2 separate regions of the Homo sapiens genome follow, and region 2 is linked to region 1. The links come from fine-mapping of genetic effects on gene expression. A gene starts in region 1. The other region holds a variant in brackets. All regions are shown on one strand. Distances are between the middles of the regions.

Region 1 (9,584 bases):
CAGGCTCAAACAATCCTCCCATCTCAGCCTCCCGAGTAGCTGGGGATACAGGTGTGCACCACCATGTCCAGCTAATTTTTAATTTTTTTGTAGAGATGGGGGTCTCACTATGTTGCCCAGGCTGGTCTTGAACTCCTAGCCTCAAGCAATCCTCCTGCCTCAGCCCCCAAAAGTGCTGAGATCATAGGCATGAGCCCCCATGCCCAGCCAACATGTACTTTTCAAACAAAGTATTACGCAGAGTCAAAGTTAGATGAAACCTCAGAGATGATCTGGTCCAATATTCCCTCTTTACAGAAACGAACGCTGAGGCTCAGGTTAACTAACGTTAGGTGACTGACAGCATGGCCAATGTGGGCTCAAATGTGGGTTTCTAAGATTCCAGCCCAGTGCTCCCTTACTGCATTAAGACAGATTTTTGTGTTTCTGTGGAAAAGTCCTGACCGAACAGATAGCTGAGGATCTGAAGTGAAAGATGTCTGTGACACAGAAATATTCTCTTTCTTCTGTACTCTAAACCTAGAGACCACCAAGGTTTAACATTTGAACCTTAAGACTTATTAAGCAAAATTATTTTTCCACTAGGCATCCATTTTATAGAAACATCCATTTTCTGTTCTCTCTCAGAGATGTTTTAGAAAGAAGAGAATTTATGTTAAGACAAATATGTGAACACTCCCCAGGCAATTACCTTCTGGTGAGGGGAAGTTTACTCCAGTTGTTGAAGGACCCAGATAAGTAAACTTCCTTTCCGCCCCCCGTCCATCGAAACACCGTTGGCCGAGCCTGGGCGGGAGCTTTATCATTCACTTCCAGATCATGCTGCCAGGCCAGGAATTCCTCCTTCTCTGGTGCCTAGAAGCAGAGCAGTTTACTCAGAAAGCCATAAGCGAGCTCCCTACAACAGACAATATTGACAATTCATTCTAAAGACGCAGCTGTTACTATCTTGGTTCATGGTTAGGATCGGAAACTTACTAGTGGTGCCTCAGTTTCCTTGCCTGCAAAATAGAAATATATTTTTTAAGGTTGTGAAGACTGAGACAGTCCATGTAAGTGCTCTATATAGTGTCTGACACAGTGAGTGCTAATTATTAGCTATTGTTGTCATTAAAGAAGTTGACATCAAAATTCTAGAAGAAGCTATGAAACACACTTGGAAGGGGCTACTACGAATCCAAGACTAGCTTAATGTCATGTTCCTCCCTTAATCAAGCAAGATTTGAAGTACAGTCATGTGCATGATGTCTTAGTCAACGACGGACTGTGTATATGGTAGTCCCATAAGATTATACCATATTTTTATTGTTATCTTTTCTATGTTTAGATACATTTAAGTACACAAATCCTTAAATATACTTGTGGAATAAGTGTCTACAGTATTCAGTAGAATAACATGCTGTACAGGTTTATAGTCCATAAGCAACAGGTTACACCATATAGACTAGGTGATACGGTTTGGCTCTGCGTCCCCACCCAAATCTCACCTTGAATTGTAATCCCCATAATCCCCACGTGTCAAGGGCAGGACCAGGTGGAGGTATCGATCATGGGGGCGGTTTCCCCATGCTGTTCTCTGACAGTGAGTGAGTCTCATGAGATCTGATGGTTTTATAAGCATCTGGCATTTCCCCTGCTTGCTCTCATTCTCTTCTGCCGTCCTGTGAAGAGGTGCCTTTTACCATGATTGTAAGTTTCCTAAGGCCTCCCCAGCCATGCGGAACTGAGTCAATTAAACCTCTTTTCTTTATAAATTACCCAGTCTCGGGTATTTCTACATAGTAGCATGAGAACAGACTAGGTTTGTGTAAGTACACTCTATGATGTTCACACAATGATAAAATCACCTAATGATGTATTTCTCAGAATATGTCCCTGTCATTAAGTGATGTATGACTGTACATGAAAATTTAAGAGGAACAATTCTAGAGCTGTCAACTTGAAAATAGGCAAATCCAGATTTTGAGGAAGGGAAAAACTACTCACAAAGTTCTGTCTAGGGACTGGGGAATAAAGCAAGACAAAGACTGAACCCTCATTAGGATAAATGATAACCTCCAGTGTGGTAAGCTCCGTATAACTGAGGTATTCCAGAATAAGAAATAAACTCATCCAAATCTATCTGGATGACATATGTAGTCATGCACCTTTTAGATTTTTTCCCAGTCAGAAGCCAAAGACTTAAAAAGAGCAGAAGGTTCAGGCTGGAAAAGACTCTTCAGGGAGTTAAGCAGGCTTCTAGCACCTTCATCTCAAATACCGACCTCAGCTTATCCAAATGATGCCTGTATTCTTTGAATTCTAACAAGATCTACATATTAAATAACAGACTGGAATCACTTCACACTAAGGATAACTAATTATGACCAAAATAGCACCCTAGTGTAGTTAAAAGAATTCACGACTTTTTTGGTATCTGGGGATTTCAGTAACTTCTAATGAAGTGAGAATGGACGCTGCTTGAAATCATTCCCCATAGATGATGTGTGTGCTCAACATTTCCTGGAGGAGTTTTGGAATAGTAACAGAACAAATACTTCTGAAGAAAGTAGTTTTGATTCCTTTGGTGTCTTAAATAGCCTTCTTGGGACCAGGGACCAAAATTACCTCCTGGGGAAAGGACGTCAAGTCATTAGAGAAACATGATTCTAAAGTTCACTTTGCACACAGCTCTTCAAGAATGCAACAAATTCAGAGAGCAAGTTCAAACCACAGGTTGTAGGGCCACATAAAAGCAGCCTCTTTGTAGTCAGGCTCAAAACTAAGATCCAAAAGAAGGTGTGAGATGTGATCACCTCGCTCAACATGAGGACAAACACAGATGGAATGAGCTGCCAAGCAATTAAATGGATGATGATTAACATGAAATTGGATACTAACAGGGTATGTTGGGCAGAGGGCAGCTTTATCTTTCCTAAACCTACTTTGTTCCTTGAAACAATTAGTTCCTTTTGGACATAACACATAAATACCAGCTGCCAGAATCACTAAGTGTCCTTGGACTGAGCCCTGCGGCTGGAAATATCCACCATATGAAGGTGGTTAACAGGAGTGTGGTTGAAGCAGGAGTTAAGTCACCTGAGTTTTTGAATTTAAACAGGCTGCAGCAGGAAGAAAAATGTTTGCACTGGCCTGCTTAAGCACGATTAAGTCATATTTAAACAACACTAGAGAGAAGTTCAGTAGCTGCTGGCTGCCTCCTTCAGACAGACCCTCACCGCCCACTGACCTCTAGAAGCTGAAAGACTTTTCTATGTACGCTTTAAAAAAAAGCAGGGTGAGGCCGGGAGTGGTGGCTCATGCCTGTAATCGCAGCACTTTGGGCGGCCCAGGCGGGCGGATCACTTGAGGTCAGGAGTTCAAGACCAACCTGGGCAACATGGCGAAACCCCACCTCTACCAAAAATACACAAAATTAGCCAGGCATGGTGGCACACGCCTGTAGTCCCAGCTACTCGGGAGGCTGAGGCAGGATGGTTTGAGTCCGGGAGACGAAGGTTGCAGTGCCCCGAGATTGTGCTACTGCCCTCCAGCCTGGGCAACAGAGTGAGACTCCATCTCAAAGAAGGAAAAAAAAAAAATAAGTAGGGTGGGTTCAGTGGCTCACGCCTGTAATCCCAGCACTTTGGGAGGCCGAGGCAGGCGGATCTCCTGAGGTCAGGAGATGGAGACCATCCTGGCTAACACGGTGAAACCCCGTCTCTACTAAAAATATAAAAAATTAGCCGGGCGTGGTGGCGGGTGCCTGTCGTCCCAGCTACTCGGGAGGCTGAGGCAGGAGAATGGCGTGAACCTAGGAGGCGGAGCTTGCAGTGAGCCGAGATCGCGCCACTGCACTCCAGCCTGGGCGACAGAGCGAGACTCGGTCTCAAAAAAAAAAAAAAGTAGGCTGAACCGGCCAGCACCGTAGCTCACGCCTGCGATCCCAGCACTTTGGGAGGCCAAGGCATAAAGATTGCTTGAACCCGGGAGTTCGAGACCAGCCTGGAGAACATTGTGAGACCACCGTCTTTTTTATTTTTATTTATATTTTTTTTTTGAGACGAAGTCTAGCTCTGTCGCCCAGGCTGGAGTGCAGTGGCGCGACCTCGGCTCACTGCAAGCTGCGCCTCCCGGGTTCACGCCATTCTCCTGCCTCAGCCTCCCGAGTAGCTGGGACCACAGGCGCCCGCCACCACGCCCGGCTAATTAGTGAGACCACCGTCTTTTAAAAAATAAGTAGGGTGAATCAAAAGTGTTGGGCAGAACTAAACACCTCTGGCAACTGCCGTCAGCTGTTCCGCTCTACTTTCAGCTTGTATATGTACCTGGTTTGCCTCCAAAATGGATAAATTCCCAAACTAACTTTTACAAAAGCTCCAGTTTGTGTAAAGGTGAGGGAATTTGTCTCAAAGCAGTGCAATTAATTACACCTAAGAGAAAAGCAGAAGCTGGGGCTCAATTACTGTTAGCTCGACTCTGAATTAATTAAGAATTTGAAACTCTGTCCCAGAGCTGCTTTCTCCTTAATGATGTTAAACCAAGTGAGCACCTCCTCCCTCAGGGTGACTTTCTCATATTGGTAATTAGACACAGGTTCTTGGACCGCTAAGAGAACTCTTACAGGACCATCTGGCTTTTAAGTGCACCGGGTAATGTACCACCTCCCTCTCCGTTCTGGTGTTTTTCGAAAGGATGTGACGGGAATCTAGTGGAGGGTTCCTCTCCTCAACATTAGTCAAGGGGAATCGGGTTCCTCCACACCGCTCGCACCTTGATTTCCTCGGAGTGGAAGAGGTCGGCGTCTTCGGGGCTGTCCATCAGGATCTTGGGCCTGTCCCCGTCCTTGGTGCCCCCCGAGCTGTCCCTCCGGGGCGTCTTATGGCCACCATGCCGCTCCAGCGCGGCGCGCTCACTGCTGGTATTGCCCATGATGGGGGTCTGCGGGGACACAGGGAAGGCGGACGGCGCCTCACTGCAGGAAAGGGACCCTGAGCAAGGGACTCCCGGAACCGCGGGTCCCAAGGAGCCTGCGGAAGGAGTCGGAGCACCAGGACACCACGCCCCTCGGGCCGGGAGCCGGTTCCGGCTGAGTCGGCAGGGTTGCCGAGCTCTCGCAATCGCGCTTTACCTGCCCAGGCAAGCCGCGGCAAGAACGCAAGGGGCGCGAAGATAAACCGACACTTTCCCAACCGCTTCACCACCCCTCAGCGACTTCCGCTTCCGGCGACTCCGTAAGTCGGCCCGGCCTAGGGCGTGGAGGTGGCGGCGGCCAGCTAAACGCGCGAGGCTATCTCGATTCCATTTCCGCTTCCGGTCTTGAGCGGTGCGGTAACAGGTGCCCCGGGCCGTCTCTGCAGGCCTCGGAGCGCGCAGTCGCAGTCAGCAGCCGGCCGCCCAGGGCCAGGCCCAGGACGAGGCGCTGCCGAGGGCCGGCAGGGGGCACCCCAGCGCGCGGGCAATCTGAGCCGTTCATGCGCTGGGCTGAATAATGCCATTTAGCTATCTTTGCTCACTTATAGTTGATTCTACACTCTGCAGCCAGAGGGATCTTTCTAAAATGCAAATCTGATTCAGAAACTCCACTTCTTAAAGCCCTTTTAATGCACGTGTTCTCACGCTTTACAGTGCATTAGGTTAACCTGGAGCGCTTGTTAAATGCATCCCCCACTGCAGACCTGCAGAATCATGATTTCTACAGATTAGGGTCGGGGGTGCAGGCAGTCTTGCAGGTATTTGAAAAAATGGCAGACCATAAGATCTCTGGAAATTTCTTATGTCTAGTAGGTTGGGGGTTGTAAAATGCTGGAGTTATTCGTGTATTTTTATTGAGTGTGCAATCTTTTGATAGGTAATTTTGCAAGATATCTTGTAATCACTTCGGAAACATCCTTCTGCATAAGATGCATTAGCGTTTGTCATTTACTCTGGTCAGTGCTTCAACAAGAAGTGCATACAAATACGGTAGTAAAATATTCTCATCTTCTCATTGTCAGTCATTGTCATATTTTGTGGGTTTTTTGGTGTGTGAATATCTCAAAATACTTTGCATTTGCCGGGTCAGGTCATGCATTTCACCCACTGAACATTTATTTAGTACCTAAAAAAGTACCAGACATTGTGCTAAGGAAATGAGGAACACAAGATGACTAAGATAAGGTTTCCTGGGGGGAATTCAGCAGTATGCATCAAAATTTAAAAATGCACCTTCATTTTGACACACAATTTTACTCCTAGGAAACTTGTGCAGAAATACACACATGAAAATTATTTACAAGCATTATCTACAAAATATTTACATGCAAAAATATATTCTAAGATGCACTTGTCACCCCCCATGCCCCCATATATTTTAATTTCTGAAACTGGATGCTTTTTACAATAATGGAATCTTACACTTGGTGAAATAAGGAAATGAAAAACTACAAAATCCTAAAAGTTGTTCAGTAGGAGAATGGCAAAATGAATGGAATACATTCATTTTGTAGAATACCAAGCAACTTTTAAAAAGGGAGAAACCATTTTTAGGTCACTATGGGGAAGTGTCTATGATATTGCAAGGTCCGGAAGCAAGTGAGAGAACAAGTTCAAGGGCAGGAGCTCTGAATTCAGCCTGGCCATGTTCAGATTCTGGCTTTACCATTTAGTAACTGTCACCTTAGTCTCTTCTTTTGTGAAATGGGAACAAAAATAACACCTACTTCATAGGCTTGTTTTGTGAATTAATTGGGAACGTGCATAAAAATGCTGAGCATAGCACTTGACTCTTAGTAAACACTCAATAACTGTTAACACTTTTATTAGCACTATTAGGCTAGCAAATGGAAAGTTCTGGAAGGGTATACAACACATTGTTAATAGTGGTCTTCTGTGGGGAGAGGAGGGAGATTGCAAATAGGAGCAGACAGAAAAGGGACTTTCACTTTTCATTTATATAGTTCTGTATTTGAAAAGTTTTCTATTGTGAGGATGTACTACTTTTTAATTTAAAAAAATAAGATATGGTTCCAGCCCCAAAGGAATTAATACAGTACAGGCTGGCACCGACCCACAGAAAAGCAATAATATAGCTAGGTAAGGGATCCTGTGGGAGCCCAGAAGGGACTTAAGCCAGGCCAGGAAAAGGGATGGGAGCCAGGAAAAGGGATGGGAGCCAGGAGGGTCTTCCTGAAGCTGATGACTGAGAATTTGAATGTATTCAGTATAATCAGAAATGTTGAATGTGCTTGCTGAATTAAATAAGCTAAGATACTGTGGATGACCCAGGATATCTTCTTTGAGCTGCTTTTCTAATAGTGGCCCTGACTTGGTTACATGAGACAGTGGGGTGTTGAGTTTTGAAATCTCTCCCAAACAGCCGGAGAGATAAGAAAGAACACATGAGCTGTGGATTCTTTATCTGAGCTATGCAGATGCTTTGATGCATGAAGAAAGTTTTAAGACATCTGCACTAGCTTGAATAAGATAACAGTGAAAGCATGGGTGGCCCTTGATGTCAAATACAATCAACAATATCCTGAGGATGCCACCAACTGCTGATTGGAAACTCTTACCACATTGTATCAAGATTTCATGACAAAGAAACTAACATTGGTATCTATCAGCTATTGACCCCATATTGAAAATCATGGGTAGGGTAGACTCGCCAATTACAAGTGTCTACTTGGGTCCCAGCTGTGTCTCTCTTGGGTCATTTTGTGTTACTTATCTGTGTAACAATGGTTTGTGACTTTCCTAAGCATCAGAGCGTCTCATCTTTCTCTGATTCTCTGCTGATATGGATGTCAGACCATTCCATCTTGGGGGCTGGAGGTGTGCCAGGAAGTATAACTGTTAGCACATTGCTGTGTAAAAGGCATCATCTACTCACTGCTGTCTGTCTGGCACCAGGGCAAAGACAAATGATAAATACCCTAGATTCTCCCCCAAACAAACCAGGGCAATTTTAACACAGCCACAGCTAGGAGTACCCCTCCCCCACCCCCGCAACCCTGGCTTCAAATTCACTCCAGCTCCAAGCACAAAAAGAAGTAGGTTTTCAAGTCCTTAAAAGTCACCCAGAGTGAGATAAAATCTCATTTATCCTTAAATTTATGATTAAAAGGGTTAAGGATAATGTTTTGGGGCCTCCTCCATAGGATGGATTAGAATCAGTATAGCACTTCTGAACTGACCAACCCATTTGTTTTATATAAGGAAGAGTCTAAGTCCCAGAGATCGAACAGTTTTGCCTGAGGTCACTCAGATGATCATAGGTCATACTGAGACTGAATTCTGGATCACCTGGCCACTCCCCACTACATCATGGTCATGGCACCTCATCAAAAAGACCTTTGGTTCCCCAGCTGGCCTGTCTACAAACATTTGTACTGTTCTGAAGAACCCTCCCCATCTAAGAACAGCCAGGGCTCTGATCACAAATAACTCAATGGCAATATTGAGTGCCAATTATGAGCCAGGCACTGTTGTAACTCTTGGTTACAACAGTGAACAAAACCAAGTTCTTGCCCTCCAGAGGAAAGAGTCCACACACATATGCACATGTGGTGAGAACAGGCAGTGTTCTCACTAAACATCGGTAGCTGGAGGAAGAAATTTCACATTTGGACTATGCTGTAGACTAAATTGTATCCCCCCAAAATTCATACATTTGCACTCCCACTCCCAATTTTATAATGTTTGGAGGTGGGGCCTTCAAGGGGTAATTAGGGTTAGATGAGCTCATGAGAGTGGGGCCCCCATGATGAGATCAGGGTACTTATGGGAAGAAGAGACGCTGGAGAGCTTGCTCGCATGCTGTCTATTCACGCCCATGCTCAATGGAAAGGCCATGTGATGACAAAGCAAGAAGGCGGCCATCTGCAACTCAGGGAAAGAGCCCTCACCACACATCAACCATCCTGGCACCCTGATTGTATTAGGCCATTCTTGTATTGCTATAAAGAAATATTTGAGGTTGAGTAAGTTATAAAGAAAAGAGGTTTACTTGGCTTATGGTTCTGTAGGCTGTACAGCAAGCATGGCTCTGGGTATCTGCTTGCTTCTGGTGAGGCCTCAGGAAGCCAAGGGGGAGCCGATGTATTGATGTATCACATGGCAAGAGTGGGAGTAAGAAAAAAAGTGGGAGGAGGTGCCGCACGCTTTTAAACAACCAGATCTTGTGAGGGCAGCACCAAGACGATGGTGCTACACTATTCATGAGAAGTCCACCTCCATGATGCAGTCACCTCCCACCATGTTGGAGGCCTCACCTCCAACATGGGATTACATTTCAGTGTAAGATTTAGGGGGAAAAGTATCCAAATTATATCACTGATATTAGACTTCCAGCTTTCGGACCTGGGAGAAGTAAATCTCTGTTGTTTAAGCCACCCAGTTGATGATTTGTTATAGCAGTCTGAGCTGACTAAGACAGACTCAAATGTGTGTGGGCTGCTAGGATAGAATTACAAGCTTACTTTTAGGGCTTAACCAGATTTCCACCAGGCCTTCTGAATTTTGCCTAGCCAATGTAAGTAACACTGCCAATGTTTGAGAAACTTGTCCATCTTTTCTTGCTAGACATTCTTGTGTTCTCTTTGCACTGAGATGTGAATATTGTGACA
Region 2 (9,584 bases), 100 kb after region 1:
TTATTTGTAATGTTACCAATTTCTGTGGTGTAAATATTCTCACCAACCTGAGGTCACTAAGTGTGATGTTGGAAAGAGATGTATAGTTAGCACACCATTATATAGTGTTTCTACCATATATATGCTATAGAAAGAAATAACCTCGAAGCATCAATAATAATAAAATATTGTAAAATAATTGGAAAACATTGAATTTTTATTATCTTTGTTTTATTTATTTATTTATTTATTTTTGAGTGGGAGTCTCACTCTGTTGCCCAGGCTGGAGTGCAGTGGCACAATCTTAGCTCACTGCAAACTCTGCCTCCCAGGCTCAAGTGATCCTCCCACCTCCGCTTCCTGAGTAGCTGGGATTACAGGTATGCGTCACCACACTTGGTTAATTTTTGTATTTTTAGTAGAGACAGAGTTTCACCATGTCAGCCAGGCTGGTCTAGAACTCAAGCGATCCACCCACGTTCGCCTCCCAAGGTGGTGGGATTACAGGCAGGAGCCATAGTGCCTGGTCATCATCTTTGTTTTAAATATAATTTATTTAATTGTAAGTTCATATAATCATTTTAAATAATGGCTGCATTTAACAGGTGGTTCACAGAATTAATGTAAATTTAACAACTGGCTCCTCAGAAGTTGATATGAGCCAGCTCTGGCACATCACTGGGTTCAGTCTTCATGAGGTTTGTCTTATTTCTGGTTTGCCCTCACTTTTGGCGTCTTATTTCTGGTTTGCCCTCACTTTTGGCGTATAGCCCTTTTCAGTGAAAGGGACAGCCCTTTCATTGAAATTCAAGTGAAAGCCTGGGTGTGCTTTCCTGTTATATGGTTTGGCTCTGTGTCCCCACCCAAATCCCATCTCGAACTGTAATCCTCACGTGTGGAGGAGGGGAAGTGATTGGATCACGGGGCAGTTTCCCCCATACTGTTCTTGTGATAGTGAGGAAATTCTCACAAGATCTGATGGTTTTAAAAGCAGCAGTTTTTCCTGTGCTCTCACTTCTCTCTCCTGCTGCCACGTAAGATGTGCCTTTGCTTCTCCTTTACCTTCTACCGTGATTGTAAGTTTCCTGAGGCCTCCCCAGCCACTCGGAACTGTGAATCAATTAAATCTCTTTCCTTTATAAATTACCCGGTCTCGGGTAGTTCTTTATAGCAGTGTGAAAACAGACTAATGCAACCTGTGACCTTTCTCCTTGTTAGATCCTGAGCTCTTATTTTGCTTCTCCAGTACTGTTGTGATGGTGGAAAGCTTTGCTAAACAGCTCAACCTCTTATATCCACTTTCTTCTCAGTTTCTTAGCTTGGTGCTATTGACAAATTGGCAGAAGATGGCATAGAATGTCAGACTAACCTCGGCGGGCTCAGAGAACTTTAACCTCTTAAGCCCTGGCTGCTTTGATATCTTTGCAATGCCTTCAGATAGATTTTTTGGGCATTTATTAATCTTTTCAAATTGCTTTTGCCAGGAACATTCTGATACAGGCTAGTTCATCAGAACCAGAAGTGAAGTCCCCTGTTTATGACGTTGTAAGTAGAAGTTTTTATATTGCCAAATATATCTGAGCATAGAACTCAGTTTTCCTTTATGATAACTCGTTTAGAAATCCTTTATTAAACTCAAGGTCATTCATATTTTCTTCAAAAATTTAGACTTTTATTTTCACATTTAAGTCTTTTTTTTTTTTTTTTTTTTTGAGACGGAGTCTCATCATCCAGGCTGGAGTGCAGTAGTGTGATCTCAGCTCACTACATCCTCCGCCTCATGAGTTCAAGTGATTCTCCTGCCTCAGTCTCCTGAGTAGCTGGGATTACAGGTGCACACCACCAAGCCCAGCTAATTGTTGTATTTTTAGTAGAGATGGGGTTTGGCCATGTTGGCCAGGCTGGTCTTGAACTCCTGACCTCAAGTGATCCACCTGCCTCGGTCTCTCAAAATGCTGGGATTACAGGTGTGAGCCACCATGCCCGGTCTCACATTTAAGTCTTTAATCCATTTGGAGCTGTATTTTTTAATAGTGTGAAGTAGAAATCAAATTAAAAAAAATTTTTTTACAGATAGCTTATTGTCCTAGTGGTGTTTATAGAGTAGGGGTATACTTTTCCTAGTGACCTGTGATATTTCTTTTGTCGTATGTCTAGTACTGTGTCTGCACTCTCTACTCTGTTTAATTAAACTATTTTTAATATTTTTGCACCAATAAAGTACTATCTTAATTGCTATAGTTTTCTAAGGTAAGTCTTGATTTCTTTTTCTTTTCCAAAAAATGTCGTGGCTGTCTTTGGCTTTTTTCTCTTTTGGAATTAGCTTTTCAAGTTTCACAAAAAACTTTATTAGAATTTCATTTGAAATTGCCTGAATATTTATATAATCAATTTGGGGAGAAATGTCTTTCTTGATATAAATATGTCTTTAATGTCTTTCAAGGGAGTTGTATAGTTGTATAATTTTCCACTTGAGGCTCTGCTTATTTTTAAAATATCTGTATTTCTGGCTACCAGTTTATTTTGCCATCATCATTGAGTATTTTATTTTATTATTTATTATTTTTTAAGAAGGAGTCTCGCTCTGTCACCCAGGCTGGAGTGCAGTGGCATGATCTCGGCTCACTGCAACCTCTGCCTCCTGGGTTCAAGCCCAGCTAATTTTTGTATTTTTAGTAGAGATGCAGTTTCACCGTGTTGGCCAGGCTGGTCTCGAACTCCTGACCTCAAGTGATCCGCCCGTCTTGGCCTCCCAAAGTACTGGGATTACAGGCGTGAGACACTGTGCCTGGCCTGTTGAGTATTTTAAATGTTATATTTCTGTTTGTTGTTGATGCAGATAAATACAGTTAAATTTTATATCACTATTATATTCAATTACCTTGCTAAATTGCCTAATTTATTCTAATAATTTATAGAGTCTTTGCAGTTTCTATGTGAATAATCACATTCATTGCAAATAATTCATTTTGTTGCCATATTTTAATCATTCTACCTTGGTTTAATTCATCTCGTATTATTGCATTGGCTGGGGTATCCAGTACAATTTTGAATGGAAGAAGTGAGAATGAGCACCCTTCTTTTGTTCCCTCCTCTAAAGGGAATACTTCTAAATTTTACCTGCAATTATGATTTCTGTTACAGGTTTTAGGTAGACACGTTTATCAAGTTAACTATTTTTTTTCTCCTATTCCTAGTTTGCTAAGTGTGCTCTGTTTTTTAAAACAAATTACAAATGAATGTTGAATTCTATCCAATGCCTTTTCTTCATCCATTGACAAGATCATATAGTTTTTTTCCTTTGATCTGAAAATGTGACAATTTACATTAAAGGATTTTTAAAGGTTAAGCTAATCTTACGTTCATGGTATAAGCCAAATTGGCCATGAAGGATTTTATTATATGATATAGTTTACGATACGATATATGAATGATATATTTCATGAACATATAGCTAGGTTTTGCTTTCCGATATTTAGGATTTTTGCACATATATTTATTTGCAAGATTATCCTGTAACTTTCCTTTTTCATTTTCTGTCTGGTTTTGGTATCGGAATTATATTAGATTAACGGGTACATTTCCTCTCAGGAATTCTTCGGAAGCACTTGTATAAAATTGGAATTATCTGTTTCTTGAAAATTTGCTGTAAGTTTTTACAATTCTATCTAGATCTTTTTCTTTCCTTTGAGGAAATATTTTAAATTACTGACAAATTTTCTTCGTTTTAGAACTATTCTTGTTTTCTGTTTCTTTCTGAGCCAGTTTTGTAAAATATATAATTTTCCATATATAATTTTCCATGTAGTCTAAACTGTCAAATTTATTGTCATGAAGTTTTTCATAGTATTTCATTATCTTTTAAAATCTCTCTTTTACGTATTTTTAGACATATTCTCCATTTGTGCTTTTTCTCTCTCTTTACTAGATCAATCTCACCAGAGACCTGCATCTGTTATTATTTTTTCTTGAAGAACCAACATTTCATTTTTTAAAAAATCATTTATTTATTTATATATAATATATATTATATTATATATATTATATATTATAATTTATATATATTATATATTATATATAATTTATATATATTATATATAATACATATATTATAATATATATTATATATTTTATATATATATATAATATATATATTTTTGAGATGGAGTTTTTGCTCTTGTCGCCCAGGCTGGAGTACAATGGCATGATCTTGGCTCACCGCAACCTCCACCTCCAAGGGTTCAAGC[G/A]ATTCTCCTGACTCAGGCTCCCGAGTAGCTAGGATTACAGGTGTGTGCCACCATGCCCGGCCAATGTTTTGTATTTTTAGTAGAGATGGGGTTTTACCAGGTGGGCCAGGTTGGTCTTGAACTCCTGATCTCAGGTGATCCACCTGCCTTGGCCTCCCAAAGTGCTGGGATTACAGGCATGAGCTGCTGCAACCGGCCTATTAATTTATATTCTTTTTACTATTACTATTGCCTTCCTTCTTTCTTTGAGCTTACTTTGTTATATTTATAACTTCCTAACCTGGATACTTAGTTCACTAATTTTTAGCCTTTATTTTTAATATAAAAATTTAAGAATATACATTTTTTGAAGTACTTCACTAGATGCATCCCATAAACTTTAATTTATAGCATTTTCATTATTTTCAATTGTAAGTATTTGTACATTTTCATTATGATTTTTCTTGGATTCATGTTATATAGAAGCATGTTCTTCTTTTTAAAATTGAGAAGCACATTCTCTAAGGTCAACATTTTTTGTTTTCTTTTTGTTATCGACTCCATTACATTCTGATCAGAGATCATAATCTATATGACATTGATTCTTTGAAAGTTGTTGAAACACTTTACTGCCTGAAATGTGGTCACTTTTTGTAACTGTTTCATATGTAATTGAGAAGAATGTGTGTTCTCTAATTGTTGGGTACTGGGTTCTGTATATATCTATTAAATCAGATTTTTAAATTGTGTTGTTCAAAGACTCAGTTACTGCAAGATATGTGTTGAAATCTTCCATTTTGAACACCTGGATCCTGCTATGGCTGAAACATCTATCTTTGGATTTCTTTTTTTTCATTTGAGCCAATGAATTTTTGTTTTTTTGCTTGAGTGGGCTTGGATTGGGTTTTGTTTCACAAACCTAAATAGCTGTCGGTGGACAGTTCGGTTGCTTCCACCTTTTGGCTGTTGTGAATAATGCTATGAAAATAGGTATACAAGTCTCTTTTTGAGGCCGTGCTTTCAACTCTCTTTTTAATGTTTTGAAGAACTGCCATACTGTTTTCTGTAACAGCTACACTATTTTACATTCTCACCAATGGTACACAAGGGTTCCAGTTTCTCCCTATCATCACTAATATTTGTTATTTTCAATTTCTTTTGACTATAGCCATCCTCATGGGTGTGAGGTGATATCTCATGTGGTCAACAGGTTTTTATCATGCGTCTGGCACTGTGCTAAGTGGATTACAGCACAGCAAACACACTTACAGAACTTGAAGCCGTGTGGGTATAAAATATACACACATACCGAATTACAGTTTTGCAAATTGCTCTAAGGGAGAACTTCTCCAAGGGAGAAGTTACAGGGAATGGGGTCGAGGGCGTGACTTACTCCTAGAGGAGGGGCATCTCTTAAAGAGATACGTGGTAGGCTGGGCTTGGTTGCTCATGCCTGTAATCTCAGCACTTTGGGAGGCTGAGGCGGGTGGATCATCTGAGGCTGGGAGTTCGAGACCAGCGTGGCCAACATGGAGAAACGCCATCTCTACTAAAAATACAAAATCAGCCATGCATGGTGGTGCGTGCCTATAATCCCAGCTACTCAGGAAGGTTGAGGCAGGAGAATCGCCTGAACCTGGGAGGCGGAGGTTGCAGTGAGCTGAGATCGTGACACTGCACTCCAGCCTGGGCAATAAGAGCGAAACTCGGTCTCAAAAAAAAAAAAAAAAAAAAGACATGGTAGCTCGCTCCCATGCATCCTCCTGGGATGGAGAACTTTTCATGCTGTTTCCTTAATAGGCTTCTGGGGCGGTGACCTTTTAGCTGCTGAGTTTTCAGAGGCCCACAGGTCCTTTCTTAGCGCACAGTAGCCTTCGGGACTGGGGCTTGCCAAACACCTTCAGAAGTCCCCAAAGAGCTCTTACTCTGGCAAACAGTTTGCCATCAATAAACAGGGCAGTGCTTCCTGCCCAGATGCCTGTTAAACTTGCCTCTCTGCCACAGTGAGTCACTCTTAGCAAAGGTTGCCTTGTTGGGCAGGATGGTCTGGTGACCCAAGGCCACTTGGTTTTCTGTGATCCCTTTTGCCAATTTGTGACCAGAAGTTAGATGGTCACTGGGGCAAGGGGAACTGGTGGTAAATGGAGTCACCAGAGGTGGCAGGATGGTTGCTATGTTTGGGTGCATTTTCCGTTAATTCTGTCTAAATAGGTTTTTAAAAACATATATGTATTTATTTATTTTTATTTTTTTGAGACAGAGTCTCACTCTGTCTCCAAGGCTGGAGGGCAGTGGTGCAATCTCAGCTCACTGGAACCTCCACCTTCTGGGTTCAAGCTATTCTCCTACCTCAGCCTCCTGAGTAGCTGGGATTACAGGTACGCACCACCACGCCTGGCTAATTTTTTTTTTTTTGGAGACAGAGTCTCGCTCTGTCGCCCAAGCTTGAGTGCAGTGGCACAATCTTGGCTCACTGCAAGCTCCGCCTCCCGGGTTCACGCCATTCTCCTGCCTCAGCCTCCCAAGTAGCTGGGACTACAGGCGCCCACCACCACGCCCGGCTAATTTTTTGTATTTTTTAGTAGAGACGGGGTTTCACCGTGTTAGCCAGGATGGTCTCGATCTCCTGACCTCGTGATCCACCCGCCTCGGCCTCCCAAAGTGCTGGGATTACAGGTGTGAGCCACCGCGCCCGGCCTAATTTTTGTATTTTTAGTAGAGACTGGGTTTCACCATGTTGGCCAGGCTGGTCTCCAACTCTGGACCTCAGGTGATCTGCCTGCCTCAGCCTCCCAAAGTGCTGGGGTTACAGGTGTGAGCCACCGTGCCCAGCCACTAAATAGTTTTTAAAATATATATAGAGAGAGTGGCAAGATTGGACCCAATGATCCTTTCTTGCTTGGCATTTGGAGAGCTTGAGAGGAGGTGCCCAGGGCAGTCATTTTGACATTTTCTTTGAAGAGACAGGATGACACCACCCAGTTATGCTAAATTCTTGGAAAATTAGTGCAATACCCCTCTCTTCTTTCTCACTCAAGAAAGTTGAGAAGAAAGCCAATTTATAGGCTGGGTGCAGTGGCTCATGCTTGTAATCTCAGTGCTTTGGAAGGCTGAGGTGGGAGGATTGCTCGAGGCCAGGAGTTCAAGACCAGCCTGGGCAACATAGTCAGACCTCATCTCTACAAAAAATTTAAAGAAATCAGCTGGGTATGGTGGCATCTGCCAGTAGCCCCAGCTACTTAGGAGGCTGAGGTGGGAGGATCGCTTGAGCCCAGGAGTTCAGGGTTATAATGAGCTCTAATTGTGCCATTGCACTCCAGCCTGAGTGACAGAGCTCTAAAAAAAATTCCAAATTATAAGTGTAATATCATTATAGCAAAGCATACTTGGCATAGCACCTGGCACTTAGACCTGTGCTCAAGACCATAAGCTATTTTTATTTATTGTTATTATTATTATTATTATTTTTGAGATAGAGTCTTGCTCTGTTGCCCAGGCTGGAGTGCAGTGGTGTGATCTCGGCTCACTGCAATCTCTGCCTCCCTGGTTCAAGTGATTCTCTGCCTCAGCCTCCCAAGTAGCTGGGATTACAGGCACCCGTCACCACGCCCAGCTAATTTTTGTATTTTTAGTAGAGACGGGGTTTCGCCATGTTGGCCAGGCTGGTCTCGAACTCCTGACCTTAGGTGATCCACCCACCTCAGCCTCATAAAGTGCTAGGATTACAGGTGTGAATCACTGCGCCCGGCTTATTTTTAATTAATTATTATTATGTATGTCTTAGGCCTAACCTTCAACCAGGAGTAGCCAAACCACACCCCATGGTCCACATCCATCCTGCCACCTGTTTTTGTATGACCTGAGAACTAAGAATAATTTTTGCATTTTTAAGTAGCTAAAAAAGAGAATAATAGTCTCTGACATGTGAAAATTGTATGAAATTCAAATTGCAGTATCCTTAAATAAAGCTTAATGGGAACACAGCATTGCCTGTTTGTTTATGCATTGTCTGTGACTGCTTTCACACCACCATGGCCGAGTTCAGCAGAGACCATACGACTCACAAAGTCTCAAATATTTATTTTCTGTTCCTTTACAGAAAAAGTTTGCCAAAACTCTTACTAGACTGTCACATCCATTGGAATCCACAAGTACGTACTTGTTGAATATTTATCTGTGAGGTTCAAGACCATGTCCATCTTGCTCACCATTGTCTTTCTCTCTCTTTTTTTTTTTTTTTGAGACGGAGTTTTGCTCTTTCGCCCAGGCTGGAGTGCAGTGGGTGATCTCGGCTCACTGCAACCTCTGCCTTCCGGTTTCAAGCAATTCTCCTGTCTCAGCCTCCCCAGTAGCTGGGATTACAGGCGTCCACCAACACGCCCGGCTAATTTTTGTATTTTTAATAGAGATGGGGTTTCACCATGTTGGCCAGGCTGGTCTTGAACTCCTGACCTTGTGATCCACTCTCCTTGGCCTCCCAAAGTGCTGGGATTACAGGCATTGAGCCACTGCGCCCAGCCTCACCATTGTCTTTCTATTTCTGAATACAGAATTGATCTCAGTCGTTTCTGTGGAGTTCATTGTTACCCAGATGTCTTGGGATTTTCCAGCTTTCATGGGTCATCTTCCATTACAGTTGTTATATAATTGAGCTCTGTTTTGCGTTGATCCAAAAGAATTGCAGTTTTATACCAGGTAGTGCTCCCTGGGCATTTCTGGGGGTCCTTGAGGAATGCTTTCATGTTCCCACATCTGTTTTAAGAGTATTCCTCTGGGAGCCTCCTCCTAAGTTCTCTGCTAGACATCTTTCATTGCCCTAATTAGCCCCATTTCTTTTACTGGAGATCTGGAGGTGAGAGCAGAAAAACATCATAGGAAAGCCTGGACCCTAAATCCCGGACTTCACATATTTTAGAGCTCATGCATCGTGCTCATGAGCACCCCAACTGGTGAACCTTTTTCTCCTGCCATGGTGTCGTGGGCTCATCCTGTTTCCCATGTCGTTGGAGTCTTTGACTATCTCTCCTCCAAATCCCAACTTCCACTTTGTTCCAGAGAGAGAGAAGGAGAAGCCTTTCCTCTCCATCACACAAAGTATTCTTTAGAGAGATGCATTTCTTCCCTCCATGACCTTTTCAGAAGAGGAGATTGCAGCCAGGTGTGGCGGATCACACCTGTAATCCCAGCATTTTGGGAGGCTGAGGTAGGCCAATTGCTTCAGGTCAGGAGTTCCAGACCAGGCTGGCCAACGTGGTGAAACCCCATCTACTAAAAATACAAAAATTTAGCCAGGCATGATGTTGAGCACCTATAATCCTAGCTACTCAGGAGGCTGAGACACGAGAATCACTTGAGCCAGGAGGTGGAGGTTGCAGTGAG

What was found.
Region 2: its variant is fine-mapped to the expression of PRKAB1-AS1 in skeletal muscle (GTEx, PIP 0.96).

What each region holds. Positions count from the first base shown.
Region 1 is chr12:119,663,572-119,673,155 of GRCh38, reverse strand. It overlaps PRKAB1-AS1 (PRKAB1, TMEM233 and CCDC60 antisense RNA 1), which reads left to right and starts at 5,029. Exons shown (of 3, transcript NR_188494.1): 1 at 5,029-5,213. PRKAB1 (protein kinase AMP-activated non-catalytic subunit beta 1) reads right to left here and starts at 5,023. Exons shown (of 7, transcript NM_006253.5): 1 at 4,753-5,023; 2 at 692-855. The coding sequence starts at 4,911. RefSeq lists enhancers at 3,693-4,328, 4,767-5,176, 7,311-7,455, a silencer at 5,277-5,546 and a cis regulatory region at 7,374-7,391.
Region 2 is chr12:119,562,207-119,571,790 of GRCh38, reverse strand. The region is part of intron 1 of PRKAB1-AS1 (PRKAB1, TMEM233 and CCDC60 antisense RNA 1); the gene reads left to right. Among named protein-coding and RNA genes, the nearest start is that of TMEM233, 27 kb to the left of the region's middle. The variant G/A (reference allele first, on the strand shown) is at 4,227.